2 separate regions of the Homo sapiens genome follow, and region 1 is linked to region 2. The links come from fine-mapping of genetic effects on gene expression. A gene starts in region 2. The other region holds a variant in brackets. All regions are shown on one strand. Distances are between the middles of the regions. Region 1 overlaps BCL11A (BCL11 transcription factor A). Region 2 holds the start of BCL11A (BCL11 transcription factor A).

Region 1 (15,297 bases), 29 kb before region 2:
CCATATTGAGAGACATAAAACACAGAACATTACACCTGTCAGGTGCTGGGCCCTGAACTATCTCCAGGCAGCTGAAAGTCAGTACATCAGCTTTTTAATGATGTGAAAGTTAAAGATTAAAAACATGTTGGAACGCTTACTTTATGCAGTGCCAAAAATGTGTCTATAACCTGTAAGGAGAGATGGGTGTGGAACATCGTAGGAAAAAGGTGACTGCACTCATGCTGCAGAGAAAAAATAAGGTCCTCACTTGCCTGCCTGCCTGCCTGCCTGCCTGCCTGCCTGCCTGCCTGCCTTCTTTCCTTACAAGAGAAATCGCTCCTGAAATCTGACGTGCTTTGCAACAGCAGTAAGTTGACCACTGGAGAAAGTGAGGCTGGAACCACTGGAATCTTGTAGATTTCTGAGGCCAGTTCTGTTCTGACACATGCAGCTGGGAGCCACTGGTTTAGGAATTCACGTGGGCATGGGACTGTGCTTATTCAGAAAGGGCTCCCAGTCACATCCTGTATTCTCCTAAATTACTCCAATGACAAAGAAAACTCAGTGAAGACAAAGAGATCGTTTTCATAGGCATTGTCATTTGCCAATCCATAACTCAGGAATTCATGGCTATGCTTGGATAATTCTCTCTAGACTTGGAGTGTTAAAAGTTTGCACCTAGTTATTCTCCCCTCTCTCTGGCAGGAGAATCATGTCACTGGCAAGCAATTATTGTATCCTCTTCAAATAATTCGGCCTAAATTTTCATTTATGCCTGTGTATTTATGCACAAATGTGTGTATGATATAGTATTATGGCTTCTTTTTCTGAAAATTGAAAAATTCAGAAAGCCAAAGATAATAGAATATACCTTGCGTGGCAAGGTATATTGATTAGGTAGGAATCAAAAATAATTGCAAAATTATTTATGCAGGAGTATTAAAATTTTCCTCAAAAGTTCCCAGGCAAATGGGTTCCTCTTTAATTTTCACCCTTACAATAAACTCTTCTGCAGGTTTTGTTTATTTTGAGGAAACATTTCACTTTTTTTTTCAAGACATGAGGTGTGAATGATGCAAAACAGTATTTGGATATGTAAACTGAATTATTTGCATAATGCATTACTAATCAGTGAGTATAAATTCTGGAGTCTGAGGACCTGAAATCAAGTGCCACCAAATTTTTTAAAATCTAGATTATAAAAGTAAAGAGCATCACCCTTCGGTGGGATAATGTACACATTTGTGTACACATTCGCATTCCGTTTATAAGAAGGAGAAATTATCCTCACAGAGTTTTCTGAGGAAAATTAAATAAGTGGCCTTTGATGTAAACTGTTTTGCTCTGACTCAACACTATGAGGCATAAGGTCCTAAATTCATAGGCACAACCACAGAAGCACCAAGGAGAGTGAAGATATTTGCATCAAAAAGAGCAGACAGTCCCCCACCCCCACCCCATGTTGGTCGCCTACGGAATCTACAGGAATCTGAAGGGGCAGCCAGACATTCTGCCTATACCACCCATCAGATCAGCCACCAACCGAACCAAAAACCACCCATGCCCTTCTCCAGTGGGTTCCCACCGGTGTTTTCGTGCAAGCTTAGCCCCTTCTTTGCAGAAAAAAAGATATTGATGTGCCAACAGTAGAAAGAAGAAAAAATTATTCCAGCTCTGTACACAACCTTTGTCAACCCAGCATGATAAAACCAAGTCTGGGAAACTATTTGTCTAAACACTTTTTGGAAAGGGATGAAATGGAGAGGAAAGGAAAAGGAAGTGTAGCCTAGTGGTCAGCACACACACACACACACACACACACACACACACTCACACACACACACACACACACACTCACACAAATCCTTGAGGGTGCCAGGTTACATTTCTACAACAGCTGCCTTCCATTGTCTACTGCCAGTGAAGCCAAACCAGCCTAAAATTTAATTTAATCTGCTGTAAACCCAAGTATCAGGCACTTAGATGGCAGCTAAAAGCGCCACTCTCAGATAACTGAGTGACACTTGCTAATAATAGCCTCTGTGTGAAGCGAGAGAGAGCGGACATTTTGTAAAACCAGAGGGACCCGGGCCTGGGCCTGGGCCTGGGTCTGGGAATGGTGTGATGTGGTTAGGCCAGTCTCAGCTTCCAGGCAGCAGATACGGCAGAGACGAGGCCCACCATGGCTCCCCTGTGACGGGCTGCACGAAGCCCACCAGTGACCTAGCTTTCAAGTCACACAGCGACAGTCCTGGCTTTTGCTATCTAGAAGAACAAAATTCCCCTTTCCAGCTCTGCAATTGCCACTCTGCTCCCTTTCATCTTCCATCTTGTGCCCCAGTCCTCCCTTAAAGGGAAGGCTGCTTAACCCTTGACGTGTTCTTTGTCCCCTTCTTTCTGAGAGTGTGGTCAATCTCCTCTCAGGCAAATCATCTTTCTCTAATAGCCAGGGCTCAAATGGCCAAAGAAAGGTCCCAAAGCCTTGTCTTCATAACACTACCAGCCACGTGAGCACGTCCCAGCTGCTTCTTCCTGACCCTCACCACGAGGCACAGAGGCACCTGTGCTGAAACTCAAGCAAACGCCACATCTGACTCTGCCTCATGCACTGAAAAAGACAAGGGATCTCTGTTCTTCCAGGAGAATGGGGGACAGTGCACAGTACAGACCCTTAAATGACCCCTTCACAATGAACTTCCCAGATACAAGACTTGAGCTCACAGGTACTTTCTTGCCCATAGGACACTTGTCCCCTTGCTACCTCTGAGCCAAACCCTTGGTGAAGAAACAACACCGACTAAACAAGGCCATACTGCTCTCCACCAGTCAGGCAATACCTTTATTTTCTGGAAAAATCTCAAATACTACAAAAGTAGAGAGAATGTTATAAATCAGTCCCCAAGTCCACATCTTCCAGCTCCAACCACCACAGCTCACAGTCATTCTTGTCTTCTGTAACCCTATCGCCTCCCTAGCCCATTTTATTATTTAAGTTGATCCCAGACGTCATATCATTTCATCAGTAAACACCTCTGTATGTATTTTTTAAACATAGGAACTCGTTTTTTTTCTTTTAAATACAACTGCAAAACCATTATCACACCTAAAAATAATAAAGTCACAAATAAAGTCCCGTATTACCAAATAGGGGAGTTATTTTAAACTCAGAAATACTTCTTTCCATCTGGGTCATGTTTTGGAGGATCCCTTCCAGTGAGGTTCAAGACTGAAGCTGCCAAGAAAAGCTTCAGAGAATCACACTCTCTAAAAAGGGCCTTGTGTAAAGCCACCTTGCATGTCAGCCCAAGCTCCTGCCCCTTGCAGTCCTTTGCCCTGTTCAGGGCTGAATGCACCCTCTGAGAGTCTCTGTGACAGTCCTCCCACATCGACTGCCCCACAGGCCCTGAGTCTCCCTCACTCCCCACCATGTGGCCCATCACCACATCCGACAAGCAGGTGCACTCCCAGTGTTCAGAACTGGAATTCATTTGTCTTGGAAGAAAGTGTTCTCCTGGACGGTTCTGCACAGAATTCATTCACAGAGCATGTCTTGGATATACAGCTGACTAGATATGTCAGTTATGTTCCAAATGGGTTTTCACAGGTCAAGGTTCTGCAGGCAAGAGCAAATACTATTTTTAGACAGGATAAGGTCAAAATGCTTTTAGAGACAGTGAGGTCTACAATAAAACCTATTGATCAGCCTCTGGAACTAGTGCTCCAGAGAGACACAGAGATTGAAACAAAAATTGCCTGGCCGTTTTCTCTGTAGACTCTGTGGGTAAAAGCTTGTTGGACTTAATATCTTTCAGGATATAAAATAAGTAAGAAGTAACTGTGTACAGATTACTGAAGTCCATTTAACCAGATGCAGAGGCAGGTCACAGAAAATACACTCATGGCAGAACCGTAAAGAAGGGAGATTTCAAGGCAACACGTGTTGCAACCTAGAGAAAGAATAAACACCAGTCTTCTCAACTCAGGGGAGGCACAAAGGACAGCCTGCCATCCAGGATTCCTGCTTGGGACTGTTGCTCCTAAATTTGCCACTATGATCCTCAATCCAGCGCTATGTGAACAACAGACTTTCAGATAAATAGTATGGAGATAATTTGCTTAAGTCAGATTTTGATGAAAAGTGGTTTCTACATGGATAGCTTTCAAAAACTTCTATATTGATTTGATGGAATCATGGTGAATTCTAAAGACTTTCCTATTCTCTCTCTCTCCCTTTCTACACACACACAGGCACACAACTATATATATATTCATACATGCATATACGTATGTATATATGTAGTATGTACATATGTATGTGTGTATATAGATGCATATGTATATATGCTTTATCTTATGATGACAGTGTTGATGTGTTTGGGGATTTTTTTTTTTTTCAAAAAGAGTTAATAAGCCTTTTATAGGTGTACCACACAAGACTCCAGTAAGCAAAATCATTCATTGCCAGGCAAAACTTGAGAAATACATTTAGAAATCATACGAGCACACAGGAGCTCAATCAAGTAAATGAATCACCAAGGCACAGAAAGTCACTGGAAAATTACTTAACTAGCCCAAACGTTCAAGAATTGACCAAGGTTTAAGCAGTAAACCCTAAATAATTTATTTAAGCCAAATAGGAGCTTTAAGCACAGACATTAATGTAATGGACTATCCCATCTTAAACTTCAGCCAGAGATCTAAAACTTTGAAGTCAATTATGTTCCCATAAATACCTCTCCATTATCAGGGGTGCTTTATTGTTTGAGAGACTCCGGACCACAGGAACTAGTGTGAAAACTGGAGGGTATCTTCATTTATCATCCGCTCCCATTTCGCAAACAAAATATGCCATGGTAAATATAATCTATATATCACATTGTGACACAGCTGACCGCATTAGTGAGCCAAGACTGTCCTAGCGGCAGCTTCCTATCATGCATTAACAATACAACGGCTGATACATTTGCACAACACAATAAGAGGTGGGGGAGAAGAGAGAACATTGGGCTATGAAATCCTAAACTTCATGTCTGAATACATAATTTTGTCACCTATCTCTGGCATGAATGTTATCATGCTTTTATTTCAGGTAATAATGGAAGGGGAAAGTAGAGCCTCTGGGGGGCTGCCATTCATTCGGCCTGTTATTTGCTTTTGGGTTGGGTTAGGGCTAAACTTTATGTTCCTTGTTTTTGTTTTTGTTTTTTTTTCTTTTTTCTTGTTTTTTAAGATTTTATTTTGTTACCAGAGATAGAAGAGCATGCAAAATCAGAAACAGCTGATTACCAGTGCCCTTACAGAGCATGCCTATTAAAAATCCCCAAAACATTATAAATTAAAGAGGCAGTAATTTAAATAAATTACCTTTTTATTGAAGCTATAGATCTCAAGAGTGCCTGTGTCCTACAAGGAACACATATTTCACAACTGATTCATTTGCCCCTTACTCTGAGCACATGGGATAATAAAAGAAAGTTTTAGATCATCATTATCCAAAGGATAACTTTGAATGCCCTTTTTCAGCATGCTTCTGAAAACATTTCATATCTCATTCAATGCCACATATAAATGGTATTTGCTGGACAGTGTGGAAAACAGAAACATCCGTGCTAAAAGCCAATGGTAAACACCAAGTTTAAAAAATGGATTGCAAAGATCGCATGTCCCAGAACAGGCCATATGCTTTTACCTACATGATGAATAAAAAAAGAACATTTTCCCTCAATTTATGCTGTCTTCAACACTAACAGAGGGAGAGTTCTTCTAAACATGTTGCATCGGATGCCTTTAACAAGCAAAAATTCCTAACTCCAGGGACTCAGCATATGTAGGCTATGTCCATACAGAGAAACCAGCTTTTGGGAGGAGGAAGGAGGAAAATATCACTGAATTCAGTCAGTTAATTGAATTTAAAATACCTGGTTGTTTGAATTCAACTATTTCTTTTTCAAAAACGTACTTCTATTTTGATGTAGTTACATTTGCCCAAAAAAGCAAACTTGGAGAAAATACACATTACATTCTTTGGAGTTTTTCAAAAAAAACAGCTTGCAACAATTAAAAGATGGAGAAATCTTATAAGGCTGGAAACTTCTGTGAATTATCACCATTCCATTATACTGCACTTCAATTTTGCTTCCAGCAATTTGAAAGATGCCTTTAAGCTTTCTGTTGGGGAATCACGAATCCAAGCCTTAATCTCCACCATAGCTTCCATCTTTGAGGCAAATCAAGAAAATAATATTCTGCTGTCTTTGCAGGTGAGCCCCATTCAGCAACTAGATTCCAAAAAATAGCAGGGAGAAAACTGGTCAGTGGTGTTCATACTATGCTAGAACATCATGGGGACTTAGAGACCCACCCAGTCCAAACTATCTATTTTACCTACTTTACAAGACAAGGAAACAAATGCTAACAGGTGAAGGGAGCCCAAAATCTCACAGCATGATACAATAAGGGTCAGAACCCAGGTGTCCTGGTTTTCAGATCAGTGTCTCTCTGTTAACACTAAAAGTCAAAGTTTGGTTCTGGAAAATCTGTAATGCCCAAAAGACCTTAAATGCCCTCCCCCCAAACCAGTCTTGGTAATTTCTCCATGGCTTTCACAGAAGGGTAAATGTCTACTTGGAAGGCCTTTACTAATTTTTATGTTATCTTCTTCCTTCATTCGTGTTTGGTAATCAAAAATAGTTTATCATAATGCTCTCAATTGGAAGGTCTTCATACTACAGGCAGATACTGTTATTTTCTGGTAGAGGATGGCAGCAGGGCTGGGAAAAAAGAATGTGGTTTTTTTCTAACCACAGTAGGTTTTTTCTATAACAATGATTTCACTTTCTAGATATAAAACAGGCATGGTTTCTCTCACCCTGAACTTCTGCAAAATCTAGATTTGATCAAATTCAGAAACTGGTGATTTGATCAAATTCAGAATCCCATATTTTGGGATGATGTGTTCTAGCAGAAAGCTATTGGTTGGCTATATTTTGCTCTTTCTTCCCCAAAAGATTTTTAAATAGTTTTCATCTTTAAAAGGATTTCAACTTCAGATTGTGCCCACGCCAAAGTCTCTATACATCTAATCAATAAATAAATAAGACAAACAAAGCAGCATATGTTTATCCTTTACCATTTGGGAAGTGTACATTAATTACTGCAGATTGTCTCCTATGCATCTCCCCCCACCCCCTCTGCATCGCAGACAGCAGTGCTCAAAAGGGTCCGCAAAATAAAAATGTGTCGGGTAATTAAATGGGTATTTATAATTAGAACTTAATAATTTGCATCAGGGACAAATGAGCTCTGATTTTAATCTGCAGCGCATTTAGATTAGCCCAAAGATAGTGTAATTTGATGGTTTATAGGCCTCCTCTCGGATTATGAAACAATACCAAGCCTTCAAGTGCAGTGTGTCTATGTCAGGAGGGTGTTAAAGAAGAAGATGCAATGAAAATGTTTGACAACGTGAAAGCAGCCATAAATTACATGACAACTGTGTAAAAGTCATGATGAAACAAATAAAGGGCTGACCTATAATGCGTCTGATTCATTGTGACACACACAACTCCCTGCGCTAATCTCTGCCCAGCCAACGCATTCTTAAGCGGGGAACTACTTAGCACCAGGAACGTTGTAAATTATCACTAGTCAACAGCATTGATTTTTAGTCGACATTTCAATCAGGTTGAAGTAGAAATACTACCCGGCTCATCCAACAGCCTCTTAACCAGTCCACTGCCCCTCTGAGGTCTCCCCGGTTATGGCTTTGCTAAATTTCCATTGCTCTCACCATTCGATATTTATTGTAGCTTTGCCACATCCAGGCACTTGGCCTGAAGGGTCACCGGCCTGCCTCTTGGGACATCAAATTTGTGCTTACCTAACGAAGGCAGAAACAGAAAAAGAAAAAGAAACAAAAGGCCATCATCAGAGATGTGGCCTGATTTTCACTGATTTTCAAGGGAAGAGAAGGAAAACTAGGGGGTGCGAGCGAGGGAAATAAGAAGGGTTCTAAAGCCATGATACGCCTTTTATCATTTCAGCTTTATCATTTCAGTCTAGGAGACCCAGCAAATAAAACTAAGAGCTTCTCTTCCAGGGTGACAAGGGAGAACCACTACACTCTTGACCCAAGGGTATGTAGAGACAATGAAGAGGGCCAAGAGAAGGGGTGAGGGGGAAGGGCTTGCATGACCTCCATTGAGGACGTCCATGCCCCGGGACAGAGTGCGAAGTAAAAGTGAAGCTTTGGAGCTCTTGACCCACATGGATTCTCAGCAGCCACCTCCATCCCACCTCAAACTCAGAAGACAACCTGGATGTGACCGACAACTTCTTTGTGATGGATCTGAACAGCCTCCCTTGGTTCTAGCAGAAGGACTTACCAAGTGAGCAGAGCTCCCATCCGATACTCGCCAGTGCTGAGGCCAACTCTTCCACTCCTCCCACGGGGCCTCCGCATGAAGTAGGCGCTTCTCAACTACCAAATGATTCTGAAATTCTCTCAGTGGAGGTCTATGTTAGCCTGGCCAATTTGAAAGGATGGAGAATACAGGAAAACAGTAACATTTGGTTTTGGAATACATTGTGTAATCCATCTGCAACGAACCTCAGGTCTTGCTTCAGCAAATATTAATAGCGTCAGGGCAGCCTGTGGAGTGACTGGGAGAGGCCACCACGCAGCTGAAAACTTGCCTCTGGGGAAGCCACATGCGGATCATATGGAGCTGTTGACTGCAGTTTCCATTCAAAACTTCCCTCAAGTTTCCAGCATGCCTTCCGGACTTGCCTTACCACAGCCTTGTTCAGCCAGAAATGAAAACCTCCTCGAAGCAGATTATGACCCCCCAGAACCCATCGTCCTAAGAAACACCACTGCCACGCACACTCACTCACACTCAGTCTCTCCCTCCCTGTATAATTCTGATTCTCCCCAGCCTTTGAAGGTACGATCCGAGAAGTAAATGCCACAGAGACAACACACAGAACTGCTGCAGGCCAAGCCTCACCACTTCTTAAAAGTCCGAGCTTAGTTTCTCATTCAGCCCACTGCAGTCTCCTGACCAAGCCACACACAAACAGTAAAACCTCCTCCCTCTGTTTCTCAGGACCCTCACTTGATTTCAGGCTCATTCTGGACAGATGGGGAAATGACTACTTGCAAAGCAGGATTCCTTACATTGCAACTTTTCCCAACAGCTCCGTGCTCCTTCAATATGCCCAGAACTGGAGGGGAACATTCTTCTCTTTCCCAGAAGATTGAAAAACTTGACCACAGAACCCATGGGAGGGACAACTGTCCAGCACCAGAGCTTCCTGCCCAGTTGTTGCCTGGCACCGCTGAAGAAAGCTGCAAAC[G/A]TACTGAAGAGGTAGCAGAGGGTGGCGGCCGCAGGCCAAAGGATTGAACAACTGTGGACCCTCAGGGAAGTCATTTAACCCTTGATGAACCCCAATTTCCTCCTCTACCAAATGAGGCTAATGGGAGTGTTTCCTTTCCGAGGTTGTTGTGGGATGGAATATCAATGTGTCAGACACATGGTAATAATGACAACAGCAATTCTGGAGGTGCAGCCCCCGGAGCGAGTAATGTCTGTGCTTTCCCTCATTTACTTCTCACATGGACTCTATGAGGTAAGGGACCTTGAGTTATCTCCATTTCACAGAGAGGTGAAATGATTCCCTCAGACTCTCCCAACCAGCTAGCAGTAACATAGAAATCTGAACCCAGAGTAACTGTGTCACACACCCAGGCAGGCACAAGCCTCTCGTAAGGCAACACACGTCTATGGGGAGAGGGGACTCCCACCCACGAGGGAGCTGCCACCAGAAACATAATGAGACCCTGAGCTCTTTAGACCCCCACCTGCCCTGCTCTTCTCTCATCCCAACCTGCTCACCCCATAATGGGGGAACTACTTTGAGACCCCAGGAGCACACAGTTCCAAGCCATGAGTCATAACCGTAATAGTAATGAGCTTTTGTGACATGTTTTACCATGTGCCCAGCACTGAGCCCAGCGCCCCCACATGCTCTCATAGGATGCTCAAAGGCCCTATGAGGCAAGCCCCGTGATTCTCCCCACTTTACAGATTGAGGAAGCGGAGGCTTAGGGAATGAAATCTGCCCAAGGTTGCACAACTAGAAATGGTATTACTTCTTTACCCTCAGCCTAAACCATTTTATTTCGTGTAATCAAAGAGAAGAAGAAAAGAAAGAAGATACATCATATGTCAAGGGCATATTTCCCCTCTTTCTGTCCCTCCTCCCTTTCTTACCAGCTCAGGTTACAAAGACATCTAGGTGGGAGAGAAGACTGCCTCTAAGGGCTTGGCTGAGTTGGCGGGCGGGAGCGGGGGCAGGTATCCATGGGATAAACCCAGAGGCCCCCAAATTTTCCCAGTTTTTATTTGCTACTAGAAAAGGAGAAGGAAATCCTGCCTCCCTTATGAGGCCTAGCCAGGGGAAGTAAATGTGATTTTATCACATTTTATATAGATGTGCACAATGGTGCCTTTTCAAGTCTATGATGGGAAAAATATTTTTTATTGTGTGAATATCATTTCAGACAGGTCCCCAAACCACTTGAAAGCCCTGGTGTCCCCTAGGTGGGATTCTATGAACCCAGCTTTAGCCCCAGCAGCTCCTCTGGTGGGAACTAGAACATGCCTCCTGCCAGTTAGTAACAGGGAAATTCAATTACTTCGCCACTTGTGGCAGGAGGGCAAAGACTGCACATTAAAAGAGCTAAAAATGTCAGGAAGTTATTGGGATGATGACTCCTGCTTGCCAACATTCATATATGAATGCATAATGTCACAATAAACTAAAAAACACAGGAAGAGGCCAAGAAGATAAGAAAATCGAGAACAAAACAAGCCCAAACACATGGGTTTGCCATCGGTCCTGGGTCCTGCCCAGGAAAGGCTGCGCCTCTAACAAGAGCACCTTTTCCCCACCCCTGGCCTTTCTTGAGCCTTCCTTGAGCCTTCCTTGCATATTATCGTTCTCAGCCACCGACAGCTTAATTCACAGGCCCTTCCAACAAGTTAAACTTCAGCCATTTAAAAAAAAAAAAAAAAAAGAGTTTCCACTGATTTCTTACCTGCACACGCAGGCACGCCGGCCACGCCCCACCCCACTGCACCACGAGCTCTCACACCTGGTCGCCTGAACACAACCAAACCCTTCCCATCTGGCCCTCGGGTTACTGGCGTTATCACAACTTTTTTTCCCAACGGCAAGCCAGGAAAGATGATAGAACCCGCATATGTAGCCAAAAGACTGGCCTCAACTGGTTCAGAGGAGGGAAAAAATTGAGCTGTGCGTCTCTTTTTTTTTTTATTTTTTATTTTTTTGCCTTTAGCCAAAAGACCAGGGAGCATTTGATGTACAGTCAGCAGGTATTTAAAAAAGAAAGAAAGAAAAAGGAAAAAAAAAACACTGAAAAGGCTTGGCTGCACTGGGGCCCTGACACGCTCTCATCTAAAGCCTGGCCCTCGGCCAAGTTCATCTGTTAATGGACAACCACAACCAGGGCCTGCACCTCCCCCACCTCCCACTACCCCTCCTGAGTCTTCTCTGTTCTCCTACCTCTTTCGAGCTCCTAAAAACTAGACATCGATTATGTCTGCGCTTTTCCCTTTCTATTCAAGATAAACAAAGTGCTTCAAGTTCAGGGCGCACCCTGGGACCCCTGACAAAACAATCTATCATTCTGTCTGCTAAACCAGTCTGGCTACACCATGGCCAGGGAGAGTAACGCTCCCAATGTACAATTTTCCCTTTGTGCTCCTTCCCTCTTGCCACTAACCTCTTTTCTTTACCACCTTCTCCGGAGCAGATGGACTTGACCACTTTGCTTAAGCCCCTCCTGGCAACCTCAGAAATTAGAGAAAAAAAAAAAAAGAGCTCCTGGCTACCCTACTCCGGTCCAGGTTTTTCTCCTCCCTCTGTGTTGCCCGACGGTCCTGCACACACAGACACAAATCCCGTTGGACCCACAGAATCTTTTCGACCCTCTCACACTAACACTAAACCAGAAAATAAATTAAATACTGGGACTGCCCCCTCCTTTGCGTTCTGCAAGAATATTTTAAGTGAGTTTTGTTTTAAATCATATCCATTAATTTACCCTGACTTGCAATTAAATGCAAGCACACTTTTTACAACCAGTACGGAATGCATTAATTATAACTACAAATGGTCAAATGAGAGCAAGGTCCCTCCAAAAAATATTAATAAAATACATAATAAATAATATTAATGAAACAAAAATAGATTCATAAGCCTTGGCCAGGGCTTTTATTATTTCATGCAAGGGGAAAGTCCAGCCAATGAAACTTGCTCCATACACTTTGGCAGGACTCAGACCAACCACTACCATTAAACTCAAGAGCGTGTTTTGGCAGTGCCCTGGCATTGGGGGGCCCTGTGCAGACACCACCAGGAGACGCTGACCCCAGTACCCAAGGCAGGGTCCATAACGTCTTATTCAGCCTTTCCATGTGGTCGGGAAGTTACCCACAGGCTGCTTCCCTCTTCCTAACCACCCTCTCTGCCGGCCGCAGCTGTTCTGTCAGTGTCCACCCTGCCCCTCAAAGGACAAATGAAATCCCCCAGACCCAGTGGGAAATAAGCCCACCTAAATGAAGAACTCAAGACTAGGGCACCATGAGCATCTGGGTTAAGGCTCGGAATCCTGCACCAGCGTTGGAAGCTGCCTTTGTTCCTGCCACACCGCCGGGCCCCTGCTAACCTGTCTCCACAACACTCAGCCTCACGCCTCACCCCAGCACTCCCTGCCTCTGCCCCTCCCCCCAAATCCAACACACCCACCGCACAATCGAATCTAATTAAGATCAGGAAGAAATTTGCATTTTCTTTTCACTGTACCCCCAGTAATCACAGAAGTTCTTCAAATTTTGAGAATTTTGTTCCTCTGCTAATTATTTCCCTCATTTTGCATTTCAAGGCACAAAGACAGTCTATCTCACTGGTGGTCTATTAATAGTTTGAAGTTTTGAGCGTCAGAAGGTGGTTGTTGCTTTTTGGTTTTTGGGTTTTTTTTTTTTTCCTTTTAAAACTATTCTGTCATTTCCAGTTTTTTAAAAAGGTTTTGTTTTGTTTTGCTTTGTTTTTTGTTTTTTTGTTTTTCTTTTTTTGGTGGTGGTGGCGTTAATGTTTCTTCAGAAAGACAGCTTCTGGGCCACTCTGGGTATTATGATTTGGTTTCCCCCTTACAATAGTTACTCTCTGCCTGGTTTACTGATTTACAGAACCTTGGTATGTGAATGGCGAAAAAGAAAAAAAAGGAAAGAAAAAAAGAAAATTCCTTGGCATAAGGATATGTTTGCTGATCAAATTTCAGATCATGTGTTGTTCATTATTATGACTTTACTTGAAAAACAGTTTGCCACAGTGAGATGGATTCACTTATATGCTTTCTACCCCTCCACTCCCTTTAAGTACTTCGAAAAACAGTACAATTTTTTTAAAGGTAGATTTAAAGCATTAACTGGTTTGGATTAAAACAATGTTTCACCATCTGTAAATTCCCTGAAAATACATTTTCAAAAGACTTATGCAAAGCCACATGATTTTGAAGGAGCTAATGAGATTGTCCCACCACCAAAATTTAATGGTGACTTAAGAAATTCTAATACTTTTTATTTACTTCCTGTAGAATTATTTGTGTACTTGACATTTATACAGTTTCTCCATTATATAACAATCTACCCTGGGTACACTAGATTATGCCAATCTATTAGAATGAAATTTGTACTCCATATAAGCAGAAGTTTCCAGTCACTTTTGACTTACCATTATGTTTCAATGTAAAGTGTTATTATAGCAGAGTATAAAGCACAGCTCCTCCATGCTCACGTTTTTAACTCTAATACTGTAATCTTTCTTGCTGCTTCTAGGGCTGTGTCAGTGTTTACATTCCTGGAAGTTAAATAAACCGACATGGCAAAACTCCTGGATAGACTGAATAATAAGGCTTGTGATGACTAAATTGTTTACTTTTTACCTTGTTAGGATCCCTTTCTTGTAAAGTTTGGGGGAGAGAGAGAGGAGAGAAAGAGAGAAGGAATGAAGGGGGTGATGCAAGATAGAAGGAGAGAGATTTATACACTGGCTTCCATATGTCACAAAGACCTTCCTATCCACAGCCAACGCGACTGAAGCAGCATGCATAAGTTAGTGTTGCTTGTTTTGTTTTCTTAAATACCGGGTCAGCTGAATACCCCTTTCTCCACTGCCCACTCAGCCCCACATAAAGTATGAAGATTTTTTTTGACCATTTTCAAATAGCAAATTATCCATTAGATTTCATCATATCTTAGTAAAGCAATTACATCAAGAAAATGATAGTGCGTGTGGAATCAATTATGCATGCAGTTGGCCGGAGACCAAAGGCTGTGAAGTCGGAGAGGGCAGAATCGCTCGACACACACAAATAAAAAGCCCCTGGATCTCACAGATGGACCCCATCAGTTCATCTTACTGCCTAAAAAGTTCATGCACTTAATAATTTATTTGTGTTCTGGATACTGTTTCCCAGCTGAATATTAACAACTTTAAACTGAAGCATGCTTTTAGCATGGTATGGATGGAAGTCACGGTAGGGCAGTGCTAGGTCCCTCGGAGGTTAAAATTATAGTTATGTTTCTTACACACTGTTCATTTTCCATCACAATTTATTTTCTTTCATTAAACATTCGTTTTAATCAGAATATCAGTTACACTGTTCTGATTCTGCTTGTTAACCAGTGATAAACTCATAAACCAAAGATGAACATCAATAATACAGCACAGGTTATTCAACAGCAAAGGCAAACACCAAAATCACAGGCTCTCAAAAATCGGAAACCGTTAGTTAGCACCTTGTTTTCACCACCAGGGCACTCGTGTACCTTGAGGGAGACACTGGGAGCCCAGGGAGCCTGGAGACCAGGATATACTTTGGTGATGAGGGGAGGACACATTGTAGCTCAGAGCAGCAGCTGAATGAGAAAACTTACTTGATCTAAAAGATAAAAGAGTCAGCCAAACCCAGGCCCAAGTCCTTTAGGTGCCAGCCATCTATCTAAAGAAGAAACCTAAAGCATTGTTAGAAAGGTTTGTAGTTCTGTAGCCTTCCCTCCTCCAAAGGAGGAACCTGATGTCTTAATACACTATAATAGCCAAGGCTTCCTGCCATCAAACTGCTAACAATAAAACTGCCCTGCAATGTTCGTGGGGAACAGAAACAGGCAATACATATTTCTCTATGTATCTGGAAGTGCCTCAATCATATACTTAAATTTTACAGTC
Region 2 (15,297 bases):
AATAGTTAAAGGTAATGTGGTTCAAAACAGACTTGGTTAAAGTCTTCTAAATGTAGTGACTGAACTGATTTACAATCAAAACCGGGAAATGAAGTGGTAATTCAGAGGTTGCTGATTACACCTCCACATTTCACCTAATTAATTTTATAGGAGGCAAAGTTCTTGAAAATAACAAGATGATCAAATGTACAGATATAAAACCTGTAACCTCAACATTTTCTATGCTCTTAACGTAAATTATTGCTAATTAACAAGAATTATATTCTAATGTATGAAATACGTTTAACATCGGTCTCCTTGCAAAACATTTGGCTAGTGGTGTTCAGAGAAATACCAAAACGTGTTTTTATCATTGCTGGTATATTATTAAAAATCAGACAAAGTGGGACACAAAGAAAATATGAAAATACAATTCTCATGGTGTAGTCTACTGATTTGCATTGACATCTTTTCTCAGTGGCAATCAACATTTCCTTTCTGGGCATCTGATAATTTCTCTGCATTTTAATGCAAATTCCCCTTTCCCTAAAAACCTTCCTAACCCTCAGCCATTTACCCCCTCCCTCAATTCAACTCCATCCTCCTTCGCCCCAACAATACCAACATTTCTAAGCTCCGGCCTAAACTCCGGCTACAAAGCAGGGAGTCCTCGATTGAAGTGGAAGGGAGTGGGCAAATAATCATAATAATTAGCCGCGAATTCTCTCTACGAGGGGAGGAAGAAATAGAAAATAAAATGCTTCTACGTTCAAACAGCAAGACAGCCTGGAACGTCTCAATGTCTCAGTGACAGACTGAGATCTCTTTCCTCTCTGTGTAGTTGCAAAAGAATAAATTTAAGGGAAAAAAATAATCCTTATAGGAAATGTTGGTAAGGAGCGAGCAAAACGAGAGCTGCCGGGGAGCGGAGGGGGAGGGGGAAAGGGAGATGTGTCTTCAAGTTTGCTTTCCAAGTCCTTCTCCTTGATTGTCTTAACAGGGTAAAGAAGCAAACGGAGGCTGAAATTCAGAGAGGAAAAGCAAAGAAACAAAAGCAAAGCCGGGGGCTACAGGCCCGGGGCAGGGGCCCCGGCAAGGGTGGACCGTGCAGAAAGTGAAGTTGGGCGCGGGGACTCTGAGGCACAAAGCGAGCAGCGTGCTGGCTGCAGGCTCCCGCCGCGCTTGCTGCGAACACGTGCAGCAGCGGCCGCGGGGCCTTGGGGCCCGGGGGCCCGGAGACGGAGGGCAGCCAGGGGCCCTGACTGCTGCCTCCATGCCCGTCCAGCTCGGCCAGCTCGGCCGCGGGGTGACGGTTCCCTGGGCCTGCCAGTTGGTGAAAAAGGAAGTGAGGTTTGGAAAACCCGGCTGGTTAACCTGGTGCAGTCTCAGTATCTCCGCACACACCTCAAGCGCGGGTCCTGAGATTCATTCTGTGTCCACAAGCTTACACTTTTTACTTTGGGGGATCTCTGCAAATGCATTTCCCCCGCAATTCTGGGCACTGGGTGTGCGCGGCGGCGGCTGCGGTTATTCATTATTAATGACGCTGCCTGCCCGCATCATTATGATGATAACTATTACTATTGTTGTGATTCCGAGCTCCGAGGCGAGAGGGGGGGTGTCGGGCTGCAGAGCCGCCCAGCAAGCCAGCCGAGGCCACCGAGGTCTGTGCTTTGCATGGGGGTGAGGGGGTGGAAGAAGTGAGGCTGGAGACCAAGTGCAAACTTGCCATATCCCCCTCTTCGGCCATGCCCCGAAGCCCTAGAGCGCGCACTCCCGGTTCCTCCCTACCAAAAATGCCGGCCCCGAAAGAAAGCGAAAACTGCACCGTGCTCCGAGCCCGGCGCGCGCTGGTCTCAGCTCGCGCACGGGGGTGTCGGCCGCGCGCCCGGTCGCTTCTCCGCGGCCCCGGCCAGAAGCATTTTTAAAGTCAAAATGAAGAACAAAGACATACGGGGTGATGGGGGAGAGAAAGGGAATTCTGCCTAACCGTTCTTTCCCCCCACCCCCACCCTCGCAAAGCTCGTTCCTCCCCGGACGAGAATCGCCGGGCAGGAGGTGGGGGAGGCTCTGGTACAGGTTCAAGTTCGCTGAGCTTTCTTGATCTTGTTCTGCCTCCTAGCGACCGAATGGCTCATTCAGCCCACATAGCAGAGGCGGGGGGCGGGGGGGTGGTACTGAGGACCGGGATGGCTCCTGCCCCCTCTGAGCACCCAGAAAATGAGGACAGAAAGAAGTGGCCCCCTCACCCCCTCCCAAACTGGCCCTTTAACCCCGGGACAGGAGGAGGGGGTACTAACCCTCCCAGCCTAGAGTGTCCCAAGATGGACCCAGGAGGGAGAGGGGTACGAGGGAGCAGCCTGGACTGCGCGCCCCGGTCTGTCCTTTGAGCCCCCACTGCATCCTTCCGAAGAAGGGCCTGACTTTCCCGAGTCCTGCGAACACTGCCCTTCCTTCCCGCCGGTACCTGGCCGGGCTGTAACTTCACACCGCCGCGCGCCGCGTCTGATCCGCATCCGGCGCGGCCGGGGGAGTTGGGGGCGGGGGAGAGCGGCGAGGGAGGGATGCGAGGGGGTGGGGAGAGGGAGGGCCGCGCAACGTGCCGGGGTGGGGGAGCTTCCGAAGTGTGTGACAAGTTCCAGGGCCCAGTGAAAAATTAAATTCCCTGTGCGCACCCCCCACCACCACCCCTTTAAAAAAACACAGAACCAAGTATAGGTGGTCCTTTAAAACTGCATCAAAAATTTAAAGTAAGAATCATAAATTGAGTAGGGGGGGAATGTGGGCCCTCACGCCTTTCTTTCCCTTGCTGCCAAACTTTCCTAAGTGCCCACCGCCCGCCTTTCCAGGCGCAGTCAGCGGGAGACAGCCACCACCACCAGCTCTTATACAGACTCACAAGAACCTCAGACCAAGCCAGGCCTGGGGAAGAGGGCAAGACCCAAAGGGTGAAGTGCTCGGGGTCCCAGGATCCAGCGCCCTTAAAATGCACACTCAAACACACTTCTCCCCTGCCCTTCCCCGGCAACCCCGCCACCTGGCCTAGTCGTGCTCGGGGCGCAGGGGGACTGGTGACCAGACCGGGCGGGGTGGGGGGTGGGCAGGGAAAGCACGTGGTGACCTCCTCGCGGTCCCGAGCTGTGGACAAGAGACGTCTGAGAAAGTACCCAGGGCGGAGGGGAGGGGAGGCGCAGAACGCGCTTTTACAGTTGCCCTGCAAAATAAAAATGCTTTGCAAAGCCGAGTTTCACCCAGCCGATTTCGCAGTCTGGGAGGTCGAGAAGAGGTCTCGGCATTGTGCTGGGGGCGGACCAGGACCACGGGCCAGGCTGGCGCGGAGACACTGCGTGGCCTGCCGCCGTGCCTGGCGGGTGGGCGCCGGGCGCCGGGTGGGCGATCCGGGGCTGGGCTGGGGCGCGGCGAGGTCGGGCAAGGCCCGGGCGAGGCCAGGCCGCCGCCGCCGCCTGCTCCGGGGCTGCCGCGCCGCGCTCGGTCCTCTGTCTGTTTGTTGGCAGGAGGCTCCCGCACACGCGGTGCTTGTAAACATTCAGACACGAGATTTTTCCCAATCAAAATCCACTTCCACTTTTTTTGAAAATCTTCCAAAAAATAGTAAGAGGAGGGAGTTCCTCTCTCCCTCTCCGTGCCGTCGGCGCCCTAAGTTTGCAACTGAAGGGGTTTGGGGGAAGAGGGTGATTGTAAATTTTTTTCTAGATGAGAGATTGTGAGATTTTTGCAGGGGGGCTGGTGGGGGAGTCAAAGAGAAGGCCGTCACAGAAAAGGGTTGGCAGAGCGTTTGGCTTCGGTTTGGGGGCAAGAAATTGTACATTCTCTTGCCTTGTTTTATTTATTTTATTTTTATGTATTTATTTATTTATGTGCCAGTCTTCTCCTTGCTGCCTCTGAGGTTCGGTCGGGAGGGGAGGGCAGCGGCAACCCAGGAGGCAGCAGTCCGGGCTCCCTCCCTCCCTCTCCCGCGTGCCCCCGGCCGCCTCCTCCCCCGGCCCTAGCTCCTGCCCTTCGGCGGCGGCGGCGGCGGCGGCGCGGGAGGGCAAGCGCGAGGAGCCGGCACAAAAGGCAGCGGGACAAACACCCACCTCTGGCCGGAACAAAAGGCGGCAGTGCCGGCCGCGTCTCCCGTCCTTCCCGGTCCCACGGCTCTCCCCGTCGCCGCGGCCCCTCTCCCGACTCCGCGGACTCAGGAGCGCCGGGGGCCCCTTTCCACAGTGCCACTTTCTCACTATTGTGGGGATGACTACTTTCCTCCCGCTGCACACTTGACCGTGAGCGCGCTGGTGTCCAAAAGCCAGTCTCACCTCTTTTCTCCCCGGGAATCGTTTTTTAGACTTGTACTCACTCCCTCCCTACCCCCCCATTTTCTTACGGTGAGTGGGAAGCAACCTCCCTTTCCCCACCAGCTCCCACCCCCAGGTTTGCATGTGAGTTGTTCGCAACCTTAGCATTGTTCATTATTTTGCAAAACTGGCGGGGCGGGGGGGGAGTGGAATCATTGCATTCCTTTTCGAAAAGAGAAATAAAGCGGCGGAAAGGAGGAAAGAGGAGGAGTCAAATTTTTGTAAAATTAAATAAAATTAAAAGGTGCGTGCTGTCTCAAAAGTGCATACACGGCAATGGTTCCAGATGGGATGAGGGTTTTTTCCCCCTTTATCTCTTTTACCTCGACTCTCGGAGGTTTTTCTCGTGAAAAATTTAAAAATGCATGCACACACCCCTCTCTCCCCCTCGCTTTTGCTTCTAGTCCTGCGCGCTCTCGTGATTATTAATAATTATTATTACTATTATTGGGTTACTTACGCGAGAATTCCCGTTTGCTTAAGTGCTGGGGTTTGCCTTGCTTGCGGCGAGACATGGTGGGCTGCGGGGCGGGCGGCGGCGGCGGCGGCGGCGGCGGCGGGCGGACGACGGCTCGGTTCACATCGGGAGAGCCGGGTTAGAAAGAAGGAGACTCCAGAGAAAATATCTTCATCAGTGCCTTTTGACATCCAAAATAAATTAGAAATAATACAAAGATGGCGCAGGGAAGATGAATTGTGGGAGAGCCGTCATGGCTTTTTTTTAAGCAAAAAAAAAAAAAAAAAAAAAAAAAAAAAGAGGGAGAGAGAGAGAAGAGAGATAGAGGGAGAGAGAGAGAGAGAGATGAAAAAAATGGCAAAAGCCCCCCTGAGCTGCAAGTTCAAGTGCGGACGTGACGTCCCTGCGAACTTGAACGTCAGGAGTCTGGATGGACAGAGACACACAAAACATGGGCAGGGCGAGCAGGAGAGAAGGGGAGGAGGGAAGGGGAAGCTCACACCAATGGACACACATCAGGGGCTGGACATGAAAAAGAGACCAGGACAAGCCAATGGCCAGTGCGGGGAGGGGGAGGTGCGGGGCGGGGGGCTCCGCGGACGCCAGACGCGGCCCCCGGGGGAGGGGCGGGCCGAGGGGAGGGGGCGCTGGGGCCGCGGGCTCACCAGTGGCCGCAGCGAGCGCCGCGGCGGTGGCGTGGCCGGGAGAGAAGAAAGGGGTGGCAGGGGTGGGAGGAAAGGGTGGGGGGGAGCAAGACGTGCGCCCTGCTCCCCCCCACACACGCGGACTCTAAAATGAAAGATTATTCAAAAAAGAAAAAAATAGAGCGAGAGTGCACCGGGAGGCTGCAGCCCCGGGCTGGGGAAGCGCGGGCGGAGGGAAGCCAGGTAGAGTTGCTCCCGGACACCCTCCTCCGTACGCACACCCACTTCCCCTCCCCGCCGCCGCCGCGCTCGCTCCCCGCGTGTGGACGCCAGGGGCCGAAGTAAAAGCCCCGAGCCCGCGGCTGCGCTCGGGAAACTTTGCCCGAGGAGAGGACAGCAAAGAAAAATCACCCGAAGTTGAGAGCTGAGCCTCCAAGTTACAGCTCCGCAGCGGGCGAGGGGAGGTGGGAGGGAGCGCACGGCAACGCGGAATCCAGCCTAAGTTTGGAGGGCTGCGGGTCCGGAAGGGCAGCGCCCAAGTCTCCAGGAGCCCGCGCGGCCTGGAAAGAGGGGACCGGGGAGAGGCAGGCGGCGCAGGCCGGGGCCCGAGGGCGCCCCCAAGGCCGAGCCAGGGACCGGGAATCTGAGCGCCCCGCCAAGCGACTGGGTCTGAATGCAACTGAAAGCGCCGAGTCCCCGGCTCCTAAGGGTCGCAGAAAGAGAGCCCGAGGAATAAAGAACGAGGAGCCAGAGTCTGGCCCCCGGAGGGGAGCGCCGGGGGCCTGGGCAAGAGAGGCACCGAGGCGTCCACCTCTCTGAGAGGCCGAGGACAAAGCGCGGGCAGTCCCGGGAGTCCCAGTCCCTGGGAATGTGCTCACGGCGCCGCGGGAGGTCCCCGAGCCGGGTCCCTGGGAGGGACACACCCCCTCCCACTCCAGAGCAACTGCAAAAGCACAGAGGGATGGGAAGAAAATGTTTCTTACGGGCAGAGCACAACTGTTCCTGTGCTGTTACCCAGGGAAAGAGAAAATGGGAATGGAGAGAGAGCGACAGGCTCGCAGGAGCAGCGGGGAGACCACGGTGGTGAGATGACCGCCTCGGGTCACCGCCGCGCTCCCCAGGCGCCGCCGGCCAAGGCGCACACCCAGGAGCCAGCAGCCCCCTCTCGCCTTTCTGCAGACGTTCCCTGGAAATTAGGGAAGACCTGTTGGAAATAAAACCCTGTCTCTTTAATGCACACACGCACACACACGCGCGTGCTGCCGCTGTCAAAAAGCGGGCTTCACTCTGGCGTGGGATACTTTCAGTTTTACGTAAAATGTACAGCAACAGCACCCCCTGCGATTGGAAAGTTTATTCAGAAACGTGCCTGTAAAGTCCCCTGGCGCCTCCCGCCTCCCAGCCTCCCTGCCTGCCAGCACCACTCTGCAGCCGCCGCCGCCGCCGCCGGGGAGATCGCAGTCCGATTCCAAATCTGGAAGGAGTTGGGGGGAGAGGAGAATGGACTCAGGTCCAAGGGAGGTGCGGAGGGTGCAGGGTGGAGACGGGTCGCCATGGCCCGCGAGACCCTGAGCTGCAGGTGGATATGTGTGAGTGTGTCTGCAGAGCGAGGAGCCCTCCTTCCCTCTCCTCGGAGCGGTTCCACAACCCCCGTCTTCTCATCCCCCTCTTCAGTCTAAAGGGTGTCGCTTCCGTAAACTCACCCACCCGGTGGGGGGGCTTTATTGTTTTAAGCGAGGGCCCCGGGCTTGCACGCGCTCACCCATCCCGCAGCCCTGCCGGCAAGCGGCTGTTTATTCCTGTTTCGTCTTAGTAAAGTTTCAAGTCTACTGTGTTAGAAAATGACTGGCTTGCCTAGCTCGGCGGAGCTTCGGACCCCTCTAAGGAAGAAAAGGAGGTTTTGATGCTCAACATTGAGAGAGATGTGGGCTGTACTGGGATTGTGTCAATGTGGTTTGTTGTTTGTTGTTGTTTCCCTCCAGTTTGTGGGAGGGAGACCTCAAATTCTGTTTAAGAAGCGGGAGGATTCACTAGAAGTTAAGCTCTGTAGCTTGTGTGTGACACCATTTCCCCTTTTCACTGAGTTCTTCAGAGCAGGTCAGCATCTCTATTCCACCACAGTCTGCTTTTTGTCTTGTTAAACCAGCCTTGGAGTCACCAAAAGAATGTCTTCTTGGGGGGTGGCGGGGGAGGACGACGTGGGGGACGGTTGGAGGGAAGGTGAAGAGAGGGAAGAAGAAAGTGCAACTGGGAGGCCTTTGAAAAATAAATAAATAAAAGAAAAGCCCCTTCAGGTAACAATAGTGAGCCAGATTCTTTCAGAACCAAGCTTTTCAGATTTGAATATTGTTCCCACCCGTCCATAAAAGTCCATCTATAGAGAAGATATATAAATGAGCGAGTGAGTGTTGTGGAAATATATATATATGTATGATTTATATATAATGGTGTGTATAAAGCTTTTCGGGGTTGGCTGTAGTGTAAAAAGTAATGACTTTATTACCTCTGAAAGGTTCTGTGGTTCACATTTAACAGTCTTCTGAATTACAATTCATTACACAATTGTGTGCGCTCTGACGATGGCACCCTATCAGGGCTGCTATCTGTGGCTATTTCCAATAAATAACTGGCAACATTTTATTGATTTTCCTTTTTAAAAAAAAACATAGGAAATTAAGCACTTAGTTACAAGTAGGTCTGCTATGTTATTGCACTTGTTTCAGATTCCAGGGGGTTCCTTCCTAAACCACATCTTAAAACATACATTAAAAAGCCAGTTTTGCAGCTGCTTTCCCTGGGTGCCAAAGGAGAGGTAAGCAGCGACGATTCCCCGACATATATTTAATTTCACCATCATAATATGCCCAGGGTGAAATGGGAAGTGCCCTCCGCTCCCGCCCCTCCCCCAGCCAGATTTCACCCAGTCCAGAAAACCACGGCTGTGTGTCGGCATTTGATCCCTCCTGGTCGTCGACCCCCCTCCCCGGCCCCTGGTGCCCTCCCCTAGGGCGACAACCCCTCCCTCAGCACTGCTGGATGCTCGCTAAAGAGCCCGAAAGTGGGGGAGGGGAGGGTTTGTATGTGTGTTTAAAGAAAGATGTGTCGTTTTAAGAGATTTTAAAATATTACGTAAGTATTGATTAATGATGCAGGTGGTTTTGTAGAGGGGGTGAAAGGTCACTTTAAATGCGCACACTTGGATACACAATAAGTATATTTACCTTTCCAGAAGTGGCTTTTAGAAAGTAATAAATTATGACAACGTTAAAATTATTTTCTGGCCGTTCAGTTAACTTCGTTTGGGGCTGTAGAGCTGTTGCTGCTCCCATTGAAAGGGTAATTACGTTCCGTGGGCTCTTTCCCAAACCTTTGGTGACGACACTGCGTGTAAACTCCAGGCCAGCAGACGACCCCTCCCCTTCCCTCCTCCCCCTTTTTATCTTGCCCGCGGAGGAGACGCCCCAGGACTTCCTGCAGTATATATTCTGCCTCTGATCTCCGTACTTAATAGCCAAGTCCTAGTTTATGCTTTATAATGTGTTGACAAGTTTTCTAACAGACTTTCTGAAATAATGCACATATATTCACGTCGGTTAGAAACCCACCGTATTTTTAGAGTTGAGTAGATCTATACCCTAATGCAGTGAGAGAGTGTAAATCATACAGGATTTCATAGTCCTTTCAGTAGTTTTCGGTATGAAGTATGAGCCGCGTGGCCTCCAGACGTAACCTTTTAGAAAAAAAAAAAGACAGTGCTTTTATTTTATGGTGTAAAGTGCTTTTAGCTCAAGGGCTCTGAACGTGAATGTGGTCAACAAACAGCTCGAAGAGGGAGACTTAATACAGTCCCAGCCCTCGGACCGAGGATCGCCTGGCGCGAGGAACTCGGGCTGAGCTGGAAGATGAAGGGTTAAAAGGTCTGTCAGGATGGAAACTACAAGATTAAAATAAAATATTCACTGTCTGCCTTTAGGGGGAAACACCTTCATAGACTCAAAGATAAATAAGTGAATGACTGAATGAATGATTAAAAATACAATCATTTCCTTCTTGATTTTTACTTTAGCCTTTTTTCTTCTTTTTATTTCTTTTCTTTTAATTTTTATTTTTTGTTTTTCCTAATTGGCAGGTCACAAAATAGAGAACAGGCAGTCATCTTCATAAAAATAAAACTTAGGTTTGGATTCTATGCTTGGCATAGGTTTTGTATTTTGGGTCTCAATGATGGAAGTGCTAGGCTGTTGTTAAGACAAAGGAAAAATGAATTTTAAAATGTTGGGAATGGCTGGGGGTGGTGGCTCACACCTGTAATCCCAGCACTTTGGGAAGCCGAGGTGGGAGGATCACTTGAGGTCAGGAGTTCAAGACCAGCCTGGCCAACAATGTGAAACCCCATCTCTACTAAAAATACAAAAAATTGCTGAGCATGGTGGCGCATGCTTGTAGTCCCACCTACTTGGGAGGCTGAGGCACAAGAATCGCTTGAACCTGGGGGACAGAGGTTGCAGTGAGCCAAGATCACATCACTGCACTCCAGCCCGGGCAACAGCCTGTCTCAAAAAAATAATAATAAAAATGTTAGGGAGTTGCTTGTGGAAGAGGATGAGCTTCTTTTTCCTCCTCTACTCCCAGTGTGACCCACAGGTTGGGAGGTCCCTGGAGGACAGTATCTATACCTTCTACAAAGGCACAGACATCTCTCAAGGAGGCTCCTGGGAGAACCATTAGTCTGGCATCTTTCTCTCCAGGCTCCCTGGGCCTTTAGCTAGCTAGCAGTCAGCGCTTCAAACACCTGAATGAACCTATCCAAAGAAAAAGGAAAAGGAAAGAAGGAAGAAAGGAAGGAAGGAGGGAGGGAGGGAGGGAGGGAGGAAGGAAGGAAGGAAGGAAGAAAGAAAGAAAGGAGGGAGGAAGGGAGGGAGGGAGGAAGGAAGGAGCGAGCTGAACCTGCTCTAAGTCTATACTTTCCTCTAGATGAGGCTGCTGTGTGCTAAGTCAATAATGTATGGGGAAGAGGGAGCAGTAGTCTTACCACATAAGTAAGGGGCCCCTTGGAAGAGACAAAGAGTTCTAGTTAGAACGCTACTGAATGAAATGCTCAGTTTAGCTTCCTAATATTGACATCAAAGACACAGAGGTGCTGGGCAATGCTGCCAGTCCAATGAATGTACTGCACTAGAGAGTTCCTAATGCAATAATCAGCACACAGTAGATGTCCAATAAATGGTCTTTGATAAATAATAAATTAATAAAGTTATCTGATAAATAATAATTTGATAAATAATAAACTAATAAATCCTATCACCACATACATGAAACCAACATAACCATCCAAATTCTATTCATTTTCCCCCAAAACTAATAAGGCTTTGATCAGGCAACCCTATTCCAAGAGTGTGTTTAAACATAAAAGTGATTCCCACCAAGGATGGTGAGCTCAGAAAAGATTATCTCGAATATCAGAGCAGCTGAACAAGTAACAATACAAGATATTTCCATCGTCTCCAGCAGCATACATTATCAAATATCTTCCAAATAAGCCAGTATCAATAAGCTGGTATCAAATGATTTCTTTTTTTTTTTAACATTGCTTTTGGATACGTACAAAACTGCTTTCTCAAATGAGACTACTTTTAAAGGAAAAAAAATACAATCAAAACAACCAAAAATAAAAGGTATTTCAAACTTGATTCTCTATGCTTCCCTACCCCATGCATCTTTTACCTTTAGCAAGGGAATAATTTTTTAATACGTGTTTTTCAAACCCAATCTTAAAAACAACCTTCACCTATATGCCTCTCTCTTTCCCTCTCTCTCGTAAATAAAAAAAAAAGCAACACACACACACACACACACACATCTGGTCTGACATTTTGTACAGCCAGCTTCAGCCCAATGTGATTTAAAACAATGTGAGTTAAAAACCTCTTAAAATTTGGGTTTATAATGGAAACGCTGACAGACTCTTAATTATAGCAGCCCTGCCAGACACTGCTATAATGAAATAGTTGTGCTTTCATTACTATAGAGGCACTATAGTTAAGGGTCTGTCAGTGTTTCTATTATAAACCCCAAGTTTAAGAGGTTTATAACTTGGGCTATTTAAATGGCACTGGGTAGAATTCAAGTTATCAGTCCAGATGTGAACTTGTTTTATAAAAGGCAGAATAACTCAGCTGAGGAAGCTTTTGGATCTCTCTCTCTCCTCTTTCTCTCTCTCTCTCTCTCTCTCCTGTTTCTCTCTCTCTCTATCTCTTCTGTTTCTCTCTCTCTCCCTCTCTCTCCTCCAGAACATTTCAGAATGTTTTTAGTAGTTTCAGATGGTCTTATTGCCAACTTCCAGCTATGACTTCACTGCCTGAAAGGAAATTTTATAGGCAGTTAGTCCTTTATTTGGACAAGTACTCTTTGCGATTTTATAAGTTTTTATTATTTTATCCTGGAGTATGTATGTGTGGGTGTGTGTGTTCCTACATATATATAGGCGCACACACAGAAAGAAACAACTTAAAAATCAAGACTATATGCCAAGGAATGTTGCGACCTCATACATATACACAGAGGTATGCATTCTGTGCTACCTTCTGATGAAAAAGTATGAACTTACCAGAAAGGAAAAATAAAGCACCTCAGATCATCTTAATCCTGTCTACCAACTGTGTGGTAAAAATAAGAGTTAGTATTCACATCTTATTTCATAAAAGGTACAGCTTTCCTGGCATCACTTGGTTTGTTTGGAAGGCAATAGCATGGTGCAGTCATCCTGAGTTACCCAAGGACTGTACACAAACACCATGTATTTCTCTGCTTGACTTTGACTGTTGACAGATTGATGAAGAATTTACTTTGTATAATCCGGTGGACCAGAGTTTTGAAATATGTACTATTAACCTGGTATACCACCACCATAATATGAAACTAATGTTTATGGGTGATGATGTGGCCGATGCTGAGTATATGCATGAGGAAAACAAGGATGGTGGTGGTAATGATGATGATGGTGGCGATAGAGGTGGCGGTGGTGGTGATGATGATACTGGTGGTGATGGTGATGGAGAAGGTAGTGCTGATGGGGTGGGGAGTGGCAGTTTCTCTAATTAACATGTCCACCAGAGGGCAGTAGAAATAGGATGAAAGATGGGGTAAGGTTAGAAGCTCTAACACTTTGTTTCTCCAAATCTTGTTGCTTTAGAAAAGCCACTCCATAAACATCAGGTGGCGGACAAGTTAAAGTGAAGTTTTTAAATGCATGCAGCTCATGGCACCTCCACCAAAATGTGACCTTGGCTGGATGTTGTTGGCAGACCCTAAGGTCACTGACTTCACACAGAAAGGCCCACCAAGAGCTATGCAGCAACCACATCTGCATTCAGAAATCTTTTCACTTTCAGAAGAGCAGTTCCTTTCCTCTATTCCCTCTGACTGGGATCAGACCACCAAATTAGGCCACTGAGGACCACAGGCTTTGATCGTTCTCACTTCACAATAGCTTTAGTTGGTCTCCTCTGGAATTCAATGAGTGACAAAAGGGAAGCAGTCATCAAAACATGTCACCAGGCTCAAGTTCCTTCTCTACCAGTGTCTCATAAACCCCATAATTGCCTAACCCCATAACCACTCCAGCTGAATGCCAGTCATTCCCAGAGAGCACTGCACAGCCCAGACTATTCTGGTCCCTTCTCTAGAAATTAAGACTTTTTTTGTGTGTGATAGTCAATAGTCTTTTTTGGTTTTTTCTTGTCAAATTCAGCAAAGGGAACTTTTCTAGGAGAAAATACCTATCCCTCTGTCATCTTTCTTTGGCAGCTTAGTAGAGAATAAACAAATCTCTCTATTCTCCCATTCCCAGTTGCACACAATTTGCCTGTTTTCTCTTTCTCTTAAAAAAAAAAAATCCTTGCACAAGTTCAGTTATCTGAACCTCCAGATTCCTATAAAATGAAGAATCTGGTCCTAAGAATTGTTATTCTTTCCTTCTTTATGGAGCACTGCACTGTGCAAACATAAGATGTGGTCCCTGCTTTTGGATGATTGGTTTTGTTTTGTTTTGTTTTTTAAGGCGGTAAGACACACATACACAGGCACAAGCATGTCACATAAAGTTCACCAGTCACACATGCCAAAGCCATACAAATGCACACTATTATCCTATTTTGTATAGCCCTAGCTTCATATTACTAATTTGAGCGGTTCTAAACCTATAGCGAGGATCTATGTGAGGCAACACAGCTCTGGTCACTCTGACACCAGATTTGTACTTTCTGGAGAAAAACTTGATTTCCCATAAATGAGAATGGTAAATAATGAGGTCTGGTCATAGATATCTGTGATCATCTATCTCTATCACAGTTTTTATAATGTTTTCAAATGGCTTAACTAGTTACTTTTGAGAAATGAGCTTTCTGTGCTACCACTTGTTTTGTAGGCAATATTATGGACTATTCCTAGCATGTATTTGTGAATGTGCCTTTTTTTTTTTTTTGAGTCGGAGTCTCGCTCTTTCACCTCTGGAATGCAGTGGCACAATCTTGGCTCACTGCAACTTCTGCCTCCAGGTTCAAGCAATTCTCCCTCCCTCAACCTCCTGAGTAGCTGGGATTACAGGTGCCCACCACTATGCCAGGCTAATTTTTGTATTTTTTTAGTAGAGAGGGGGTTTCACTATGTTGGCCAGGCTGGCCTCGAACTCCTGACCTCACGTGATCCACCCACCTCAGTCTCCCAAAGTGCTGGGATTATAGGCGTGAGCCACTGCGTCCAGCCAATTTTTTGTTTTGGTTCCCTAACACATAGTAGGCACTTAATACATTTCCTGAATCAAGGAATGAATTCCACAAATATATTTTCAGTTGCTGCTGCCAGTGAAAAAGACATGGGTATTTGCGTTGCTCACTAATAAGTACTCAATAATTGAAAATTATATTATTTTATTTCATTTTTTAAATAGTTAAGAAACATGGGCCATTTGCACTGCTATTTAACCTACATATTATAAACTCCACACCCACTTCCATCAGGGGGAAACAATTACATGTCTCTCTGTGTATATTCCATATAATATCTGTGTATATATGTGTGTATAATATCTTTGTATATATGTCATAAAAGCCACCACATCACCCAAGTCCTAAGTTGTTAGAGCTTATAGGGCACAGTCTCTGTCATTTTCATCTTTCTCTCCCTCAGCACAGAGTAGAACCTTAGGAAAATGTCTGGTACATGAACAAAGACTTACAAAGTAAACCACTTAGATTCCCAGGAACTTCAAAATCCTATCTACCATAGACAAAATGTCCTTTTTATTGTTCTCAATTCTCAGATTTTGAAATGCAGCAAAATATTCAAACAGCCAAATTTCAAGAGCATCATAACAGAGTAACTCTGAGAGACTAATTCTGGAGGCTGATTCTCCAGACACTACGTTCTTTAAATATCAAGACCTGTCTAGCTGGTTTTCATTTGCAACAGGCAAAGCTCACAGAGCTTTATATGGGCAACCCCCTTCCCATACACCCCCAAACAGTGATTTTTTCTGGCCTGGCTCAGGGAGCAAGGGAAATATCAGTATATGCTCTTGACATATGATGAGTAAAGAAGTATGACCTTCTCTTCTCAAAATATTGAATCTTGAACTCAGAGCTTAATTAGTGGATTTTTAAAATAAACTAAGCTTCTGACTACAAATATATTAGGGGAAAGCATATACATTATTTGAATATTAAGCACATAAGGGGGTTTTGCTAAAGATTATAGATCTTTTGCTTGTATTGATTTAAAGGTTCTAGAAAATTTTAAATATGCTCATTTTAAAACATGTTTTATAAGAAATCAACTCTCCTTCATGGGAACATGCAGCTTTCCA

What was found. PIP is the estimated chance that this variant, and not a neighbour inherited with it, causes the effect.
Region 1: its variant is fine-mapped to the expression of BCL11A in lung (TOPMed, PIP 0.95). The same link has a PIP of 0.9 or more in nasal epithelium.

What each region holds. Positions count from the first base shown.
Region 1 is chr2:60,519,289-60,534,585 of GRCh38, forward strand. The region is part of intron 2 of BCL11A (BCL11 transcription factor A); the gene reads right to left. Among named protein-coding and RNA genes, the nearest start is that of BCL11A, 27 kb to the right of the region's middle. RefSeq lists a silencer at 11,453-11,522 and enhancers at 12,543-13,102, 14,981-15,297. The variant G/A (reference allele first, on the strand shown) is at 9,340.
Region 2 is chr2:60,548,422-60,563,718 of GRCh38, forward strand. It overlaps BCL11A (BCL11 transcription factor A), which reads right to left and starts at 5,233. Exons shown (of 4, transcript NM_022893.4): 1 at 4,795-5,233. The coding sequence starts at 4,849. RefSeq lists enhancers at 1,121-1,893, 1,514-1,563, 1,894-2,666, 6,493-6,542, 7,117-7,725 and 1 more and silencers at 1,124-1,303, 2,994-3,303, 3,364-3,423, 3,944-4,303, 5,713-5,802 and 1 more.